Linked DNA regions of Homo sapiens: regions 1 and 3 are each linked to region 2. The links come from fine-mapping of genetic effects on gene expression. A gene starts in region 2. Each other region holds a variant in brackets. All regions are shown on one strand. Distances are between the middles of the regions.

Evidence for each region.
Region 1: its variant is fine-mapped to the expression of BCAS1-AS1 in whole blood (INTERVAL, PIP 0.99).
Region 3: its variant is fine-mapped to the expression of BCAS1-AS1 in whole blood (INTERVAL, PIP above 0.99). The same link has a PIP of 0.9 or more in spinal cord.

Annotation. Positions count from the first base shown.
Region 1 is chr20:53,935,024-53,937,785 of GRCh38, reverse strand. BCAS1-AS1 (BCAS1 antisense RNA 1) reads right to left here. Exons shown (of 5, transcript NR_199019.1): 2 at 192-423. Among named protein-coding and RNA genes, the nearest start is that of BCAS1-AS1, 21 kb to the right of the region's middle. RefSeq lists an enhancer at 2,273-2,762. The variant C/A (reference allele first, on the strand shown) is at 1,619.
Region 2 is chr20:53,914,366-53,917,127 of GRCh38, reverse strand. BCAS1-AS1 (BCAS1 antisense RNA 1) reads right to left here and starts at 1,639. Exons shown (of 5, transcript NR_199019.1): 1 at 1,562-1,639.
Region 3 is chr20:53,942,183-53,944,944 of GRCh38, reverse strand. It overlaps BCAS1 (brain enriched myelin associated protein 1), which reads left to right. Exons shown (of 13, transcript NM_001366298.2): 13 at 1-1,404. The coding sequence ends at 23. BCAS1-AS1 (BCAS1 antisense RNA 1) reads right to left here. Exons shown (of 5, transcript NR_199019.1): 5 at 1,364-2,762. Among named protein-coding and RNA genes, the nearest start is that of BCAS1-AS1, 28 kb to the right of the region's middle. The variant T/C (reference allele first, on the strand shown) is at 1,358.

The DNA of each region.
Region 1 (2,762 bases), 21 kb before region 2:
TGGTTTTGACCCTTCAAAGGACATTTAAATGGTTATTTCTAAGTGTCATAAACATGGACTTGGGATTTGGCCTCATCATTCACCCAGATGATTCATACCCATGATCCCAGGCTGTGAGGTCTTGAGCAAATTACTTCTTCTCAGAGCCTTAGTTTGTTCCTCTGTGGAATGGGAATGCTAACAGCACTTACCTCGGAAAGTTGCTGAGAATAAACGAGACCGTGCATTTAGAGCATGTAGGCACCGTGTCTGGCAGGTAATGAGTGCTCAGTCAGCTTATTGATGAGGATGCAGATGACCTCAGCCTGAGATAGAACAGATGTGTTCTCTTTCATGGACTGAAGGCCACCCAGACTTTGCGACATCCTTAAACTTTGCCCCAGTTTCTCCTTATCCTCATAAGCAGTTGGCTGGCTGGCTTATCTAGAAAAAAGAAAGGAGGGAGGAGAAAAAGCAAAGAAAAATGTTCATTTTCCCTGCTGTTCACCCCATTCTAAAGTAAGGCAGAATTTCTGGAGAGGGGGCTCAGGTCCACCCTTGGCTATCCTTGGTTGTACAGTTGCATCTACTTATAACGGTGGCCAAGTCGCCATGGCAGTAGGTGCTGTGGCTGCCCTGCCCCATCGTCTTCAGACTACCCGAGTTTACCTGCAGCACTGACAGCTTCCCACCCCAAAACTCCTCGTTCTTTGCTTTTCCTCTCGGTGGCTTTCTCCAGGGGCTGTAGGAGCTTGTTTAGCCCACCTGCATGGCATTTTGAAAATACCTGAAATTTTATGCCCCGAAGGACAATTCTCAATCAGTGAAAGATGGGAGAGGAAAGGTAAACACCTCAGCTGCCCCATCTCTCAGTGGGACAATGTTGAGGGGTCGTCTTTGTGTTCTCTCAAGGGTCCTCAGCAAGACCGAGCCACCCGTCACCCACAGCAGTAACATACTCATGAGCACGCCCCCCCACCCCACCTTTTGTGCTTCCTGGGATCACTTCCCAAATAAACTACTTGCACCTAAGTTTTTGTCTCAGGGTCTGTGTCTTAGGTTAAAAACCTCTGTGTCGGCCAGGCGCGGTGGCTCACGCCTGTAATCCCAGCACTTTGGGAGGCCAAGACGGGTGGATCACCTGAGGTCAGGAGTTCTAGACCAGCCTGGCCAACATGGTAAAACCCCATCTCTACTAAAAATACAAAAATTAGCCGGGTGTGGTGGCAGACGCCTGTAATCCCAGCTACTCGGGGGGCTGAGGAAGGAGAATCCCATCTCTACTAAAAATACAAAAATTAGCCGGGTGTGGTGGCAGACGCCTGTAATCCCAGCTACTCGGGGGGCTGAGGCAGGAGAATCCCTTGAACCCGGGAGGCAGAGGTTGCCATGAACCGAGATCACACCATCGCACTCCAGCCTGGGGGACAAGAGCGAGACTTTGTTCCAAAAAAAAAAAAGAAAAATCTGTGATCTGTGTCTTAGGGTTTTCTCGGGAACCTCTATCCCATGACAAGGAGCTGAATAGAAGGACATTAATATGGGTGCTAGTTTTAAAGGTACTGGAAGAGTTGAAAAGACAACCATGGGGCCGTGAGGCCCACCCGGAGATTAGAAATAGAACATGGCACATGTATAC[C/A]TATGTAACTAACCTGCACATTGTGCACATGTACCCTAAAACTTAAAGTATAATTTAAAAAAAAAAAGAAAGAAAGAAATAGAAATAGGCTACAAAAAGAACCACCACTAGAGACACACAGCCAAAGGGAAGAGGTGATGCTTCTGGAGCTAGGGAACCCGGCACCCTGTGGGAAATAGAACCCCATGTGGATGGGGGTGAGGCTGCTTGAGGGTAGCTGGAACCCAATGGAGGCTTCTGCAAGCAGTACCTTTTTGTTGACTGGAGGGAGGAGGCAGGAAAAATACGTGTCAGTGCCGCCCACTGGCTGAACTTAACCAGAAGCCAGTTGGTAATGGAACCTGGGAAATGCAGTTTGAAGAGAAGCTTGGAAAAATGATCTGAGAGTAAACATACAAATACCTAGCACAGTTGGTGGCTTTAAGAGGAGAAAAAAGGGAAGGGAAGGGGAGGGGAGGGGAGGAGAAGGGAGGGGAGGGAAGGGAAGGGAAGGGAAGGGAAGGGAAGTGAAGGGAAGGGGCAACCTTGATTAGTGTCCCACCCCCTTCCCTGGCTCTAAATAAATGAACATGTATGCTATGGTCATGCTGACATCCTTGTCTCCTCCTTTATCTTCAGAAGAGAGCAGTAGCTATGAACACAGGCTCTGGGTCCAAACAGCCTTGGTTGCAATCCCAGTGGTGCTACTTGCTAGCCACGTGGCTTTGAGCAGGTTCCTTAACTTCTTCCAGCTTCACTTTCACATCCATAAAGTGGAGACACTAGTAGAATCCACCTCACTGAGTTGCTGTGGGGATTTAACGATGTATTCCATGCAAAGCACAAAATGAGTGTCTAAGAAATGTTCATGCTTATGGAAACAGACTGTTCTTTGAGTTTCAATCAGCTTATTCAAGTTCCTGCTAAAACATGTTTCTTCTCCTCTTTACCACTCACACCTCCAACTTCAATGTCTAGAATCTACCCCTTGTCTCTACTTCACAGTCTTTAAAGTAAATAAATAAATAAATCTTTCTATTTTCATAGAGGTTCTGTGAGAACTGAGGAGAAACAGCCTTTCTCCTCCCCTCTGGGCTCACAACCCTCTCTCCGCATCCCCTGCCCCCTCCCTATCTTTGCTGGCCAGTTGTTCACAAGTAGCTTA
Region 2 (2,762 bases):
TCCTATAAGTCTCCAAGAAGTGTTGTGAATTTCTATCTCTGTGACTTTTGATTACTGAGTTTTTATTCATTCAATAAATTGTTTGGAGGGCCTCTCGCAACAAGCCTGTTCCTGGGGTCTTAGCTGCTGTCAATGGGGGTCACGGTGTGTTCCTGTGAATAGTAAGACCAGAGCTCTACCGTCTGATAGCCACTAGACATACGTGACTATTTAAATGTAAATTCAGAATAACAAAAATTAAATGAAGTTAAGAATTCATCCCCTCACAGTTGCGTAGCTGCATTTCAAGAGCCCAGTAGCCACATGTGGGTGGTGGTTACCATATAGGACAGGACAGTCCGGGCGCAGTGGCTCGCGCCTGTAATCCCGGCACTTTGGGAGGCTGAGGCAGGTGGATCACCTGAGGTCAGGAGTTTGAGACCATCCTGGCCAACACGGCGAAACCCTGTCTCTACTAAAAATACAAAAATTAGCCAGCCATGGTGGCGGGTGCCTGTAATCCCAGCTACTCGGGAGGTTGGGGTACGAGAATCGCTTGAACTTAAGAGTTGGAGGTTGCCGTGAGCCGAGATCGTGCCACTGCACTCCAGCCTGGGCAACAGAGAAAGGCTCTGTCTCAAAAATAAATAAATAAATAGATAGATAGATAGGACAGGACAGATGCAAAACATTCATATCATCCTAGAAAGCTCTCTGTGCAGTGCTGGACTAGGTAGTCAGATTTGCCTGGGACACTCTGGACTATACCTGCTGTGTCCGCATCATCATCCATAGCACTCTGTTTCACTCTCAAAAATGTCCTGGTATTTCAGCTACCCTTCTACCCGCTGAGCCACACTCTTTGCTAGGACTTCCCTGAAACCCAAACCCTTTGTCTTGATGAATAAGTTGGCAGTGTCCAGCAGTCTCCCCCACCCCATTCCCTCTCACCTATCAAAAGCAACAATTTTAGGAACAGGAAAAAAAAAAATCCAAGTGAAGAAGTTGTCATTTCTCCCCAATTAAATGATTTCCTTGTCAGCGGTTTCACTTTTGTTTTGTATTTCCCTTTGCCTAAAGCAGCTCTGATGGGCGCCCTTTGCCCTGAATCATGCCCACAGATCTCACAGGAAGGAGGCCGTCCCCGGCTTCTCCTGAGCCCTCCCGGCCACCCTCCCCTACTCCCAGCCTCCCCTTCCCGTCTTGCCCAGCAGAGGGCGTCTGAGTTTAATATTCTCAATAAAGAGCATGTACACAATCACTTGGGATTTTTTTTTTCTTTCTTCCAGTGATACTTTTTCTTTGTGAGCAGCAACTGAGGTGCCAGATAATATAGGTCACCTGAAGGACAAGCCGTCAGAATTGGAGATCAGAGCCGCTCAGGCCGGCCGCCAGCTCGTTAGGGAACCGCACACTCAGCTCCCACCCAGCTCGGGACGCCCAGCGGGAGCTTCCCTTGCAAACACCAGCAGACACCATTTTGCAGAACTCTTAAGAAACGCGGGTTAAATGTGTTAGGTACAACGCATGCAGCCAAGACGGGCATGGAGAGCGAGAGGGCTGGCCCGGGGGGGAAGCAAACCTCCTGATGATGGGATTGCTCTTGCTGGGGGCTTTGTAAACAGCCTTGCATCTCACACCTCTGCCAGGCAACAAAATGGTGGTGGCTAGAAAAAATAAATAAATAAATAAACAACGCGGGGGTGGGGGGAAGGTGGCACCAGGTAGGTACCAGAGATGGACTTTTCTACAATTTTCTTGGGCTGTCCGTTACCAACAGTTATTCTCTCTCTTTTTCTTTCTTCCTTTCCTTCTCTGTCTCTCTCTTTCTCCACCCCCCTCCCTCTCTCTCTCTCTTCCCCCTCCCTCCCTCTCTCTTATTCTCCTTGTTACATTCTCTGCAGTAATCTTCCCCCTCCTACTGAAGGGGGCGGAAGACCCAGCTGATTTGACTCCAGCTCCCCCTCCTCAGCCTTGCAAATTCCTTATTGAGCATAATTTCTGATTTGTTTCTATGTATCTTAAGGGGTGAGGTGCTGAGGCAAGTTAAGAGTTCGGGTTATCTTGTTTGCCTGTTTTGGTGCACTGAACATATTTACGAAATGAAAAAGCTCCTTTCTAAATGGGTGTTAACTGCTCTAAGATTCCCAGGAAACGTGTTGAAGGGACATCTAAATGGAAATTGTGCAGTATTACTCCATTGCACCTTTTAGGAAGAAAACAATTGTGGCTACTCTGTTGGGCTCTGGTGGCAGTGTAGTAGTGAGTGATTTGTGTGACTGCGGCACATTCATTTTCCTTTTCTATTATAATCTCACCTTCCTTAAGGAATAAATGAGACCATACAGTAAAGGGCTAAGCAAAGTTGCATGACACAGCTTCGGTAGCAGCTGTTACTGTTTTATTATGTCTTTGCTTCAAGCTCTCTCCCTGGGCCTGGAGCTTAGCTTCTGCACACAAATGCTTGATGGAGAGAGCTCTGTGTTATCTGAATCCAGAAATTCTACAGCAGAGGTTTGGCTCCACCTCACCATTGATTTCCTTTCGGTGATTTTGTAAGTCATCACTTTGTAATGCAATTTCTCTCTGTATGAAACAAACGAGTATTTTTTTTTACCACCCCTTCTGAGACTGTTGATAAAACACACTCGACAAACGTTTTACAGCACCCTTGTGAGGCACTAAGGAATGGGGAGAAATCTACACCTAACCACCACCACCACCAGGCATCCCAGTGTGCTCAGGGCAGCGCCAGTTTTTGCAGAAGTATTAATAGCCCCTCC
Region 3 (2,762 bases), 28 kb before region 2:
GACCAGTTGGCAAATCCAAGTAAACAAATCAGCACGGTTCCCACCAGGTTCTCCTGCCACCAAGATGTGTTCTCCTTACTCCATCTCCTCCCCAAACACGCTCCATGTATATATTCTTCTGATGGCCAGCAAATGAAATTCTGCCTAGAAATTAAGCCCGAGCTGTTGTATATTGAGGTGTATTATTTACGTCTCTGGTCCAGTCTTTTCTGGCAAATAACAGTAAAGATGGTTTAGCAGGTCACCTAGTTGGGTCAGAAGAGTCGATGATCACCAAGCAGGAAAGGGAGGGAATAGAGGAATGTGTTCGGGTTAAGTGATGAAAATGGCAGTGGTGGCCGGGCGTGGTGGCTCTCGCCTGTAATCTCAGCACTTTGGGAGGCCGAGGCAGGTGGATCACCTGAGGTCAGGAGTTCAAGACTAGCCTGGCCAACATCATGAAACCCCGTCTCTACTAAAAATACAAAAATTAGCCAGGCATGGTGGCACACACCTGTAGTCCCAGCTACTCGGGAGCCCAACGCACGAGAACCGCTTGTACCCAGGAGGTGGAGGTTGCAGTGAGCCGAAGTTGCACCATTGCACTCCACCCTGGGCGACAGAGCAAGATTCTATCAAAAAAAAAAAAAGGCAGTGGCAAGTAAGTTATAGAAGAGAAATGCTGCTAGAAGGAATTAAGCGTTGTAGTAAATGCGTGCTTATCCTCTAAGCTTGAAGAAGGGAGACGAAAATCCATTTGTTTAAATTCACATCTCAAGGAGGGAGAACCCGGGCTGTGTTGGGTGGTTGCCAATTTCCTAGAACGGAATGTGTGGGGTATAGAAAAAGGAATGAATAAGCGTTGTTTTTCAAATAGGGTCCTTGTAAGTTATTGATGAGAGGGAAAAGATTGACTGGGGAGGGCTTAAAATGATTTGGGAAAACAATTGCTTTTGAGGCTCAGTGACAACGGCAAAGATTACAACTTAAAAAAAAAAAATAAATAAAAAATAAAGGAAGTTGCACGGTTATTTTGCAACACAAGGGGGCGGCAAGGTCCCCATTTTTATCCTGTAATACTGTATCCCTAACAAAGATTTGGTCTCTGCTATCTTACATTATTAATGTTTCTCAGATGGCTGAGGGGCTCGCTTCATCTGTTCCGTCTGACACTTATCTCAAGTGTGTCTGTCATTCCTAATGTTCTCAGGATGTGCTCTGATAAAACCCTCCCCATAACCTCAGTTAATAAAAATTTACAGAAGACTTCTCAAATACCTGAGTTGTTTTTAATACCTGTACAAAGGAGTAAATAGGACCCTGAGTCTATTAAAATGTAATTCAAAGTAGCATATGATTGACTGACAGTCATGTAAAC[T/C]GTATCTTTCTTTTTCTGATTTAATAAAAAATACATTTACTTCTAAAGTATCTTTTAATTTTCAACTTCAAAGCAGTCCCACTCTATATCTGAGATGACTCTAACTTCTACATTATAAAATCCATACTCTTTCTCCATTATCTTCTTTGGAAGATCATTCTCTCCCAGATCTTCCCGGATTTCCTTGTATATGGGCACACACACACACAAATGTGTGCAGTTGTATGTTTGCATGTACACACACATGCATGTATAGAATAGTGCTGTCTTAGGCCAGGTTGCTTGGAGCAGAGCCTGAGATGGGGATTTGGACGCATAGGATATACTGAGAGTGGGCTCCGAGGGAAAGGGAGTAAGAGAAAAAGAAGAGGGCAAGAAAAGAGTTGGGCAAGGGTTGGTTTCAACTGGAGCATGAATTGCACCACCCAGATAGTTTGACCTTGAGTCAAGGGAGCCAGCCTTTGAACCCTGGTAGGTGAATTCTGGGCTGCCCTGGGAGGTGGGGGGATGGGCAAGCGGCCCCCATTGAGCTGAGAAGCTGGGATGCCTAAGTAACTGGAGGATGAGTGCATTGACAGTGTCCACTACAGATACACACCTATATGTTCAGATACATATTTATACCCATATTTGCATATATATGCACATATTCATATATATAAATATATATCATGCAGGAATAGATCCATGCACTCACACAGTCATATTTACATACATGCAAATAAACACATGTAACTAACACAGATCCACACACACACATTGGCTCACACAAATCTATCTCATATGCAATTCATCACACATTGATCGGAGATAAACATTGAATATACTCTCCTGATGTGGATGGACCTCGACTCTAAGGACAAGTTTGCTGCTTAGGCAAATTACACCACGGCTTTGGCAAATAGGCATTTGGAAAATGTGTTCAGAAAAATATGGTATCACTCAAAACCCAAGCGTAAGTGAGGAGGGGATCCTGAGCTGCTGGGGCCTATTAGCTCCCAGCTTGGACAGGTCAAATTCGTGTTTCCAATAAAGACCAGAGGTCTTTTCCTTGCAGCTGGGTTAGTTTTTTCAAACCTCCTGACCATACCTCGAGATTACTCACACCTGTGCCTCACCCAGTTGAGAACTATCTCGTGCCGCTTAGTATCAGAATGCTTAACTTGGCATGAAGCAGGAAAACAGCACTTGGGGAAGCCATTGGTGGGAGGCCCATCACTGCCATCGTCAGAGCACGGGGTGATTCAAGGAAACCAGGCAGCTGCTATTCCTTTGTCTCCAAACACCGTGGGGGTTGTCTGCTGCAACCTTTGGTGAGCTCCTGAGCTGCAGTCCATTGAGGAAGGTGACAGTATCATTTGCAAGTTTCACCTCGCTGGGTACAGGGGCTTTTTGCCCAGATAAG